Homo sapiens: one gene and its partners. Changing the gene in region 2 together with the main gene of any one other region gives a genetic interaction. Each region holds a gene or a part of one and is shown on either strand. Other genes may lie near its edges.

Region 1 (3,652 bases), on a different chromosome or scaffold from region 2:
TGGCAGACTGTCCACACACCAGATTAATTACTGAACATAAACACCCTACAGAAATTCAGAACTCTGATGGACTCACATCTAGATTTCTAGTAAGTGTATGCCTTTGTTCCACCTCATTTTCCAACTTCTTCTTTAGATGAGAGATCTCATGTTCCAGTTTTTCTATCTGGCTACTAAGCCTTTGTTTGGTTTCTGTTTCAGATCGCTCCAGTATTCCCTAAAGCAAAGAAAAGATTTTTGGTTATGCTTAAGAAAAAGGCAATACAAAAAAATAAAAATTGAAGGCAAGAAAGAATTACAATATTACAACCCATTTCTACATGAAGCAGCTAAAATCTACAGTATTTATCAAGAAAGTATTCTGGTATTTTTTATATTAAAACATCTATTATACAGGAAAGAGATGGAATGTATTATAATCGTCATTCAGATTTCCCAAAGTTTTAAAGAAAATAAAAACCAAAGAATTAATCTTATAAATAGTAAAACTGCACAGGACACTGTAAATATACCTGAGGACTTACCAATGTATGGTTTCAATCAATTCTCTTTCAATATTTTATTTAAAATATTTAAATGTCTTAATAAACTGCAAAATTCAATGATCATAATGGATGACAAAAGTGATGGATAAATTTTCTAATTAAGGAAATTGAGAGGATAAAAAAAATCTAAATTTAACTTTTATACATTTTTTCTACATAGGCTTTTTATTTGGTTACCTGAATTGTTTGCAGATTAGTTAGCAGTAAGTTTTGCCCCCTTTGTTCAGCTAACAAAGACTCTCTTTGCTGAGAAAGACGAACTTCAGACAATTTAAGCATTTCCTTTTCCTTCTTCAAATTTTCTGCTCTTACCTAAACATAAGTAGAAATGAAATAAAAAATGCTGAAAAACATGGTGTCAAGTGTATTAAGATTATAAAATTAAAATGATTCATACATCACTACTTTTTTTTAATGCTCTTAGGGACTATATCTCCTCATTGTATAAGGAAATACAAAACAGTTTCATGTGCTAAAATACGAAGCAAAAATTATTGGGGATCATCAATGAAAAAATCTTTCAATTACAAATACTTATGGTTCCTTGCTCTAACAATCCACAGTTTAAAAAATAACAGCAAGAAAAATTTAATATGTGAGAAGAAGAAAGCAGAATTGCATGACTGCTGTAATCATTCATACCTGACTACTATTAAATTATGTAACTTTTAGAATCCAAGCCGGTTTCAAAGTACCTGTTTAAAAGTGATGATTGATCTATTTAAAGTTTCTCCCTCCCCTCAACCCCAAGAGTCTGAGTCTCAAGGGGACCAGGGAGAGTGTTTTGAAAGCTCAAAGTACTCATATTTACACACAAGTACTCATATTTACACACAGATTCATATAAATGATCAATGATAAAATTCACTCTACCAGTTTGAAAAAGTGCTGCTGCCCACTCCTCACAATGGAGTTGGAGCAAGATAAAAATAAAGAATACAGCCTTATAAGAGCATTATAAGACATGGGTTCAAGTCCTAACCAACCCATCTCTCATGACTGTCCCAAAATAGGCAAATTATACATTAGCTCTTGAGTCTGTTTTACACAGGTAAAATGGGGGACAACTATACCTAGCTTACAAGTAATGATCAAAGACAGAAGAGATAACTGAATAACAAAGAAAACTATATAAAAAATTTATCATCACAAAACTAAGTATTTAGTTAAAAGTAATAATTTCAAATGGACATTTATATTCAAGTTAAAATTCAGAAATATAAATTCAATGCAATGTAATTTTTATATTGCTTTTTATTACAGATGAGCAAGAATGAATAACATATTCGTCTGGCCAGGCACTGTGGCTCATGCCTGTAATCCCAGCACTTTGGGAGGCTAAGGCGGGCAAATCACGAGGTCAGTAGATCGAGACCATCCTGGCTAACACAGTGAAACCCCATCTCTACTAAAAATACAAAACATTAGCCAGGTGTGGTGGCGGGCACCTGTAGTCCCAGCTACTCAGGAGGTTGAGGCAGGAGAATGGCGTAAACCCGGGAGGCGGAGCTTGCAGTGAGCCAAGATCGTGCCACTGCACTCCAGCCTGGGCGACAGAGTGAGACTCTGTCTCAAGAAAAAAAAAACCAAAAAAAAAAACGTCTTTGTTAGAACCAAACACTGACCTACAAATTTATTTTGAAATGCAAGACTTGCGAGTATATCTTAGCCCAGCAGAAAAACAAATTCCTTTCCCTCTTCTATCTTAATAGAAACAATCACCCCACTAACGCACACTGGCTATTTGCAAACTATGTATTAATTACTTGGTGTAACCTCCAAACTTCTTAAATACCTAAGTCCTATCAGTGAGTAAAATTCAAAGTAAAAACTAAAGAAATGTCAAATGCAACTTATAATGCAAGTTGGACAAGGGATATTGGACTCACTTCTGCGACAGCTAGCTTCTCATTTGCTCCTCTCAAATCTTGAGTCATCGTATTGATAATCTGTTCTTGCTTTTGAGTTGTGGCAGTGAGTTTCTGATTTCTCTCATGAAGTGATGTTATTTCTCGACGATATCCTTCAACATTATCTTGCAGCATTTCATAACTGGTATGAAAAAAGTAATTCTACAAGTAACTGAAATGATATCCTAGCTTAATCCCTTGAAGAAATTTCACAATAGCTTAACCCATTTCCCCAAATGCCCTGAGAATATTGTCTCTAATCCTAATGTAACATCATACATATTTCTGTTAAGTTGAATTCTGCTTAGAAATAACTCCAGGAACAGTTTTTATATTTTATTTTCACACTGAAAATCTGTCAGATTTGCCTCAACCTCAAACAGCATGCTTATGTAAAATTAAATGAGCGCTGGCAGCAAGCTGCACTTTTTTTTTTCTAAATGGGAAAGGGGTTAATTTTATGATTTATGAAGAAGTGGCTTGTGTAATAAGGTAAAACCTTCATTCTTTTTTCCCAATTCCAAATGTAGTGGTTCAAGTTCTAAGTAAGCAAAGTATTTCATGCTAAGTAACTTTTTAATCTTATTTTTAAAAAATCAATTATATTTAAAGTAATGACAATGCAATATTGATAACACCAGACACCCACTACAATGCAGTATACAAATTAAGTTATTATACAGGGTTAGTGATGGATTTTTGCTAATCCTTTTTTCTTCTATAATCCTCAGTTTTATTTTCTTATGTGCTTGAAAGCTGACATAATGGCTGGCTAGAGGTATCAACAGAGAAAAAAGAAGTGCTTTAATTGGGGTTGCTGAACTATTAGATGTATAGGGGTAACTGCCTGCAATATATCCTGCCTGCTATAAAACAGAAACAGTTTTATCATGTACTATATAAAAATAAATATTGTCCTAACAAACTAAACTAACAAGCATTCAATGAATTTAATAACAAATAATCATGAAATATTTATTATTTCTTTGGATGTGACCAAGAAAATTAATTCTCCTAAAACTACATAGCACTTGCTTCTCTTCTACCTAGAATAGAAAAGGTGGAATAAAATTTGCTCTCATTTCTCTCATCATCTGGTGCATTTTTAAAAGAATTAAGTCCTACCGAAACAAGTCCTTTAATCTTAGGAAGGTAAACTACCAACATTCCTCACATGAACTTCAACTTATTTTTATT
Region 2 (3,652 bases):
TCTGGGGGAGGATGGGGAAGGGCGGACACAGAACTCACTCTGGCGAGATCCAGATCTGCCTGTTTCCGGTGCCTCCAGAAGGTGACCGAGGAGCGCGAGTGTGGCCGGATCACTGGCTCCCCATGAACCAGCAGCTTCACAAAGACGCTCAGGACAATCACACCATTTACCAGCCATAAGAGAAGAGTAGGCATCATCCAGTCAAACCAGCCCCCAGAACCTAAGAAGGAGCGTCTCAGCAGAGTCTGCTAGGAAAGGCCTTGCGGAGCAGCCAGGCACCTGACAGACCCCAGCACTATCACAGGAAAGAGTCTTCTACCTCATTTTCAGAAGAAAGGGCAAATAATTCTATAATCTAAACAGGGCTAATGACTGTAGCCCTTCTCATTATGGAGCTGAGTGCCATAAAAATCTTTGTTTTGAAAGGGTTGAGGCATTGGTTTTGCAACCTCAGATAAAAAACACGATATCCTCCTTCAAATAGGTACCACCCCTCCACCCCAGGGTATTTAGAGTAGTGTGGGTCCCTGATTTGTTTTGCTCATTCTGACTGAACTTGGGCTTGCCTTGTTACTTCTAAAATGGAACTTATGCCAGTCCCTATCAGAAGCAAGCAGGTGGGGGCCCACTATAAAAGCCCTTTGGGACCTGGTAGCCAAGCCAAGAAGTTTGTACACAGGGTCCTTCTCCTGCCATAGTGGTCCAGCCATGCCCAGGTGGGGCAAGGGGCCTCCACCTACCTGACTCGAATGACAGGACACTGCGGCCAGAGCCTGAGTGTGGGTGCTGGTCAGAGTCGTGGGCCCCTCCCCACTGCAGCAGGGAAGTCAGGGGGTTAAAGGAGAGGCACAGGAAGGTGAGGACACACAGAAGAATCCGTGAGCGGTCTACCATGCCCAGCGCCACAGGAGGAGAGTCTGGCTCATCTTTGACCTTCAAAACAAGGCCTCGAGGTTGGAATAAATACTGCATAGGTTTTTACAGCACTTTATAAATACATATATATATATTGAGAAATGGTTATGAGGTTTAAATTCAAGTCGATTAACTCAGGACTAAGGCCAGATGGGAACTGAGAAGCCTATAATTCACTAACTGCTGCTCAAACATTGGCACATTCACCTGCTTGCTAACTGAGAAAAGTACATGTTCCAAAGAACAAAGGTAGAAGAGATTTTCTTTTAAAATAGAAATCTACCACAAAAGAGAACACACTGTATGATTCTGTTTCTGTATAATTCCAGAACAGGCAAAATGAATCTAAAGTAACAGGAAACCAATGAATCAGTCATTGTCTGAGGCTGGAGAGGGGTGTGGGAAACTACCTGCAAAGGTGTACAAAAGAGCTTTTTGGGGTGATGGAAATGTTCTATATCTTGATTACAGTGACAGTTACATAGCACTGTACATTATGTTAAAACTCTTGGTACTGTACTTTTAAAGTAGGTATATTTTATTGCATTTAAATTACACCTCAATGAAGTTGATCAAAGACCGTATTTAGTGTGAATCTATCTAAAGGATTTTACCTGTTCTAAAACTGTATCATTGTCTACACCCACCCCACTCTCCATTTTACAGCAGGAGGGCTGAAGCCAGATCTCCCCTGCGCCCCAATGTGTATATAGCATGTCATTTCTTTTCAATATTTTAAAACCATTTAAGATTTTCTTCTGATGACTCAGAAGCCCAGCTAATTCAATTTATATGTCAAACAGCCTGTTGTTGCCAAACAGAACCACATTTATAAGAATATTTCAAAAATGGAGCTTCCTTAGTAAAATTAAGTATATGATACAATAAACAGCTTAGTCAAAAACAAACACTAGGAGGGAACTTTGTGCTTTCAGAGTCAGAAACTGCCGAAGTCAAAATACAGTACAAAACCCAGTGGTCTCTACAGGTTCCCAGGAAGATCATTAGGCTCAGAGCGTCTCTTAAGTAATTCCATTAAACTACCATTGCCAGGGGCTTTGACGATTAAAGGCCCATAGGTAAAATGTTATCTGTTAGACTGCAAATTGTAATCATTTCTGAAAAGAGGACCCAGAGGCAGCCTCATCCTAAACCAACTGATCAGCCTCCCAAAGTGGTCTTGCCAGGCCCATTAAAGGCAGAGTGAAGCAATGAGGTGCCTCCAGCAGCTCCCAACGCCCCCACAACAGCTACTCTGCATTCTCGTTCTGGATCTGGCACTCATTCCTCTCTGACGGGGCCTATCGGCAAGGACCAGTTAAACCTGAGGGACTGTTTCCCCCCGGAGTCAGTTTTTTCTTTCTTTATTCTCCAGGACCTGGCTAATTTCACAGAATTCCTGTTTTTCTCCAGGCTAGGCCCTCTTAACATGCGGCCTGGCCTCATAACTGTGACCTCCCAGCTATCTTCTTAGGGGAAATGGGAAAGATTCCAGGGATCAGGAGATTTCAAAAGTCTGTACCTTTGCATCATCCAATAGAGGGCTTCCTGGCTCAGAGTCAATGGAGTAGGGAGAGAAGCCAGCCTGGGACCCTGAGTCAGAGGCTGGGGGGGACATCAGAAGGACATTCTGATTAAAGTCCTCGATCTTCAGGTCCACCTCATTGTCCACCAGACTGCCTAGGTCGATGCCCTTTAGAAGCTCTGCAAAGAAAACCCCACCTGGTGAAAATGATCTGCTTTTACAAAGCCCCACCTGGGCCAGGGCTGACAAGCCTTTTCTCAGCACACTTACTGTTCTTTTGATTTGCCAGCTTCAGCACCATGTTCTCCTGGCGCAGTTTATGATTGACCTGCTGCAAGTATTTGATGTAATCAATGGCCTTCCTCAGAACGCCAGACTTGTGCATCTGGGTAGGAAGATGAGTGAAAACACAGTGAGACCAGTGCAGGCTACAGTGTGAAAAGAGCAGAGCCCTAGCACTTGGGATGACAGCATGGCTCTGTGAGAGGAGAAACCAAGTTCAGATGCTGGTCCTCCCAATGATTAGCTGTGCCACTCGGGAGAAGTTATTCCATACCTCAGAACCTCACTTTCCTCCTCATTAGCACAGAGATAATGAAAGCGCGTGAATCACAGGCTTGCAGCAGGGCTAAATGAGATAATGAGTGTAAAGGGCTTAGCCCTGAGCCTGGCAAATAGTTGACACTCAATAAATATTAGCTATTGTTCCCACTTCTTATAATAATCCTAGCACCATAACAAACTTTAACGAAAACAAATGAAAAAAACAACCACAGCATTGTTGGACAGTTATCTTTTTTTTTTTCTTTTTTCCAAGACAGAGTTTCACTCTTGTTGCCCAGGATGGAGTGCAATGGCGCGATCTCAGATCACTGCAACCTCTGCCTCCCAGGTTCAAACAATTCTCCTGCCTCAGCCTTCCAAGTAGCTGGGATTACAGGCACCTGCCAGCACGCCCGGCTAATTTTTTGTATTTTTAGTAGAGACGGGGTTTCACCATGTTGGCCAGGCTGGTCTTGAACTCCTGGCCTCGTGATCCACCCGCCTCAGCCTCCCAAAGTGCTGGGATTACAGGCGTAAGCCACAGTGCCTAGCCTGGACAGTTATCTTAAGGCATAGATTTTTACTTAGGATGTACAGCTTTCAGATTTGTAGGCAAGGAAAATGAAATTTTCTTTCAAAATAGGGTTTAAACATAGATAGGTTTTAAAA
Region 3 (3,752 bases), on a different chromosome or scaffold from region 2:
CTCTGAGAGTTTACCTATGGGACATAATTGCAAAATGTCTGTCGGTGTCCTTTGTTAGCATCTTTGACTTTGTTAGTTCAGGTTTGCGCCATTTCCTTTATCAGAATTTTATTAAAGACAACTTTGAGACTGGGAAAAGACCTGAGTCTTTTCTGACTATGAGTGGGCCTAGAGGATACAAACACTCTCCGCTGCCCCATATTTCTCCCCTTGTTTAAAAACAGCAGCAGTGGCATCATTCTCTCCAGCTCTTCAGTCAGCAATTATGGCTGCCCAAACATGGAATGCCCTAAGGTGGCTCAGGACATTGATAGGGAACTGGGGCCATGGCCTTGGAAATGCAAGCTGCTGAGTGAGGCCAAGTGGTCTATGGAAATCACGATCTCCCTGCATGGTGGGATTACAAAGGTGACCAAGAAACACAGACAGAAACAGAAGAAAATGGAATTAAGAGTTGAAATACCCACAGAACAGAATCATGGAATGTAAAACAAGTAAACTTTATTTGGGAGATGGGGTGAATCCATCACTGGTTACTGGAACCCTGAGTCTGCATTTTCTCCTCAGGAAGGCGGTCTGAAATGGAGTGGGCTGTGTTTGGCAAGGGTTGTAGTGGTTTGGAATCTGAGTAAATGAGCAGAATCAGAGAAACAGAATTAGTTTTCTGACTGTGGTACTTCTCACACCAACCCAGAACCTGTCCATGTGTCCTCTTCACTCTACGTTCTCCATTGTCCCTATCCTCTGGGGTGTCCTCCATTTTCTCCCTCACCTCTCACCTGCTTGGCTCCCGAGCTGGGCCTCAGGCCTGTCTCCCCAGAGTAAATGCCCGGGATCATTGAGGAAGCGTTGGCTGCGCTGGCATGTTAGGCAGGTCTGTACGGTCCAGCGCTGTCCCCTGCAGCCTAGGGTGAACATGGGAAAAAGACTGTCCACGTTTAGAAGTAACGGTCTCTTGCTGCCAGTTTTGCCTCCAGTGTTTTTCAGTAGGTATCCCCGCTCCCCCACCACACCCCCAATTTGAATGCACATTTGATGGTGTCAGGCCTCGGCATAAGCTCCATCGATTTCCTGGAACTCTTTAAGATAAAGTTCAAACTCCCTAACAAGACTTCAAGAACTGGCCTGTTTCCCCCTCCAGTCTCATGTTTTGCCCTCCTACCTCAAACTCCAGCCTCCTGAACTCTCATTTCTTTGACAGCACCACAAGCTCTCTTGTCTCAGAGTCTGCACACATGCCTAGAATTTCCATCTCTCACTCCCTTTGCTTATCATAAACTTCGCCACCACTGGCATGAGTAAGTGAGCATTCTACTCCCCCAGTTAATCTTTTTCTACACCATTTTGTTTCTTAGTCTGTCCCATCAGACCGTAATTTCAATGAGAATAATGAATCTAGCACAGTACCTGACACATTTTAGAAAATAAGTATTTGCTTAATAAATGAATGGTGATGGGAATCGTCCTCCACAAAGCCGAACAACATCTATTATTGTGCATGGGTGGGGTTGCCTCTTAAAAGTTATTATTTATTGCCCACACTGGAAGAAAAAAAAAAAAAACAGCCGAGCCCAAACCCTAGTTTGTGCAAGTGGCGTTAGGAACTTAATCCAAACCCGAAGAAGGAAGACTCCTGCGAATCCCACACCCAACATCCATCTACAGTGAGAAAGGCGCTGTTGGCCTCCAGTGCCCGCCCCCCACCCCGCCCCCCTCCGCGCCCCCAATGCTCCGCAGTCTTCCACCTCCGTTGGAGCACTCACGTCTCTGGCGCTGGGTGCAGGTGAGGCCCGGGACGAGGAGGGAAGAGCAGCCTCGACAGAGAGTCCTCTTCACCGAGGGATCCCTGGGGGCGGAGGAGGATAGTGGTCTGGCGCCCGCGCTCCCTCTCGCGTTCCTCCCGCGTCCCGCCCGCCGCCCGCCCCGTGGCTGTCTCACCGCCGCAAGACGAGCCGCTTCGCAATGGTCCTCTCAGTGTAGCAGTAAAACCTCGCCAGCGCCTGGTTCTCGGGGTCCTGGGCAAGGACACAATGGGCGGCCTGCGGGAGGGGAGCAGTCACTCTGGGACGCCGAGCACCGTCCCCGTGGGGCCCTTGTCGCAGACTCACCTGGTACAGGAAGTTGAGCCTCTGGAAGGCCTCGCGGTCCTTCACCGGCCCCGCCATCACCGCCGCGCTCCAGGGCCTCCCGCAGCCCCACCCCTCGCACAGCCCCGCCCGGGCGTCCGCGCGAGGCCTCCTGGGAAACGTAGTCCCCGCGCCCTCGGGAGCCTCCCGGAGGCCTCACAAACTCATCGGTTTCTAAACACAACCCCAGCAATCCATGCCCAGGGTCCCTTTATGAATTTTCAGTGCTTTTGTCTTCCTCAAGCTCATGACCAATTATATCACCTAGAGACCTAGTGGAGCAGGTGAGGATCTTAAATCGGCCATTTTCAGGACAGAAGGCTGGTCTCTTTATGTAGCTACGTTGGGGAGATGGTTATGTGCAATTTATACCCAGCTAGAGCTTCTGCCCTACTCTCCTGAGGTCCGAGGCAGATGCCTGTAAGATCTACAGACGGAAGGCACAGAGGTAATACATTAAAAAAAAGCACTGGTGCCAGTGGGGGTGAAAGTGGGAAGGATCATGAGGGTGCTGGAGGGAGGGAAAAGGACTCCCGGTCCTCAGAAAGCACAGTTTACTCCTACTATTCCACCTACCAAAGAAACACACTTCCTGTTATGCAGTGCTGGACACACAGTAGGTGATCCTCACTTTCTGAGTGAATGGTTTCTAACTCCTAGGCTTAGGTACAGCACAGAAATCTGTCAACAGCATCCCCTGCCCCTGAAACTTCACCCCACTCCCCACACTGACATTCACCTCACACCCCTCCCTCTGACCTCTTCTATCTTCCAGTTCTTCTGTCTGGTGTCCTGTGACTCATAGTGACTATCAGTTACTGAAGTCAGAAGCAGAGGGACATGAATTGGAGGGGTAGAAGATCAATGAACCCTGAGATGGGGAGGGCAGCATAAGTCAGGAGAGGATGACTTCTCTCCAATTTCAGACCCAGTGCCAGGCGGGGACAGACAAGCAGGGCTCCAGCTGGGAGGAAGGACATGGCTGAAACCTCCTCTGGAACTAGTTTCACAAGGGTTTTCGGACTCAAATGAGAGTGGTGTGTTTAAAATGTAGATGTAGGCTGGGCACGGTGGCTCACACCTGTAATCCTAGCACTTTGAGTGGCTGAGGCAGGTAGATTACTTGAGTTCAGGAGTTCGAGACCAGCCTGTCCAACATGGCAAAACCCTGTCTCCACTAAAATTAGCCGGGTGTGGTGGTGCATGGCTATAGTCCATAGTAATCCCAGCTACTCTGGAGGCTGAGGCAGGAGAATTGCTTGAACCTGGGAGGCGGAGGTTGCAGTGAGCTGAGATCACCACTGTACTCCAGCCTGGGCGACAGAACGAGACTCTGTCTCATAAATAAAATGTAGATGTCCGGCCCACCCCAGACCTTGACTAACCACTAAGGGTGAGACCCAGGAACATGCATGTCTAACACCCAGTGATTCTTACACATCAGTACAAGGCTGTCACCAAATTACCACACAACACAGAGATCACTTCAGTGGATCCTTTGTTCCATATTATTTTAACCAACCAAAGTATCTTGCCACAAAGAACCACAGTCAAGGCACAAAGGTAAGAGGAGGAGAGTCTGGACAAAGTCCTGTTGAGGTGGTAGGAGGAACTGAAATGCCCTCA

What was found.
Region 1: changes in SREBF2 (region 2) and TPR together harm fitness more than expected from each alone (negative genetic interaction), as found in Homo sapiens cells (one large-scale study listed by BioGRID).
Region 3: changes in SREBF2 (region 2) and RPP21 together harm fitness more than expected from each alone (negative genetic interaction), as found in Homo sapiens cells (one large-scale study listed by BioGRID).

What each region holds. Positions count from the first base shown.
Region 1 is NC_000001.11:186,351,254-186,354,905, forward strand, and holds part of TPR (nucleoprotein TPR), read right to left. Parts: intron 2,598-3,652; coding exon 2,435-2,597; intron 858-2,434; coding exon 723-857; intron 218-722; coding exon 77-217; intron 1-76.
Region 2 is NC_000022.11:41,874,510-41,878,161, reverse strand, and holds part of SREBF2 (sterol regulatory element-binding protein 2), read right to left. Parts: intron 2,826-3,652; coding exon 2,711-2,825; intron 2,620-2,710; coding exon 2,438-2,619; intron 934-2,437; coding exon 741-933; intron 221-740; coding exon 39-220; intron 1-38.
Region 3 is NC_000006.12:30,343,585-30,347,336, reverse strand, and holds RPP21 (ribonuclease P protein subunit p21), read right to left. Parts: upstream 2,182-3,752; 5' UTR 2,166-2,181; coding exon 2,109-2,165; intron 2,040-2,108; coding exon 1,939-2,039; intron 1,871-1,938; coding exon of another isoform or gene 1,847-1,870; coding exon 1,764-1,846; intron 906-1,763; coding exon 780-905; coding exon of another isoform or gene 773-779; intron 625-772; coding exon 527-624; 3' UTR 480-526; downstream 1-479. Other genes in the region: TRIM39-RPP21 protein, read right to left, coding at 527-624, 780-905, 1,764-1,846, 1,939-2,039. UniProt on the Homo sapiens protein: Component of ribonuclease P, a ribonucleoprotein complex that generates mature tRNA molecules by cleaving their 5'-ends.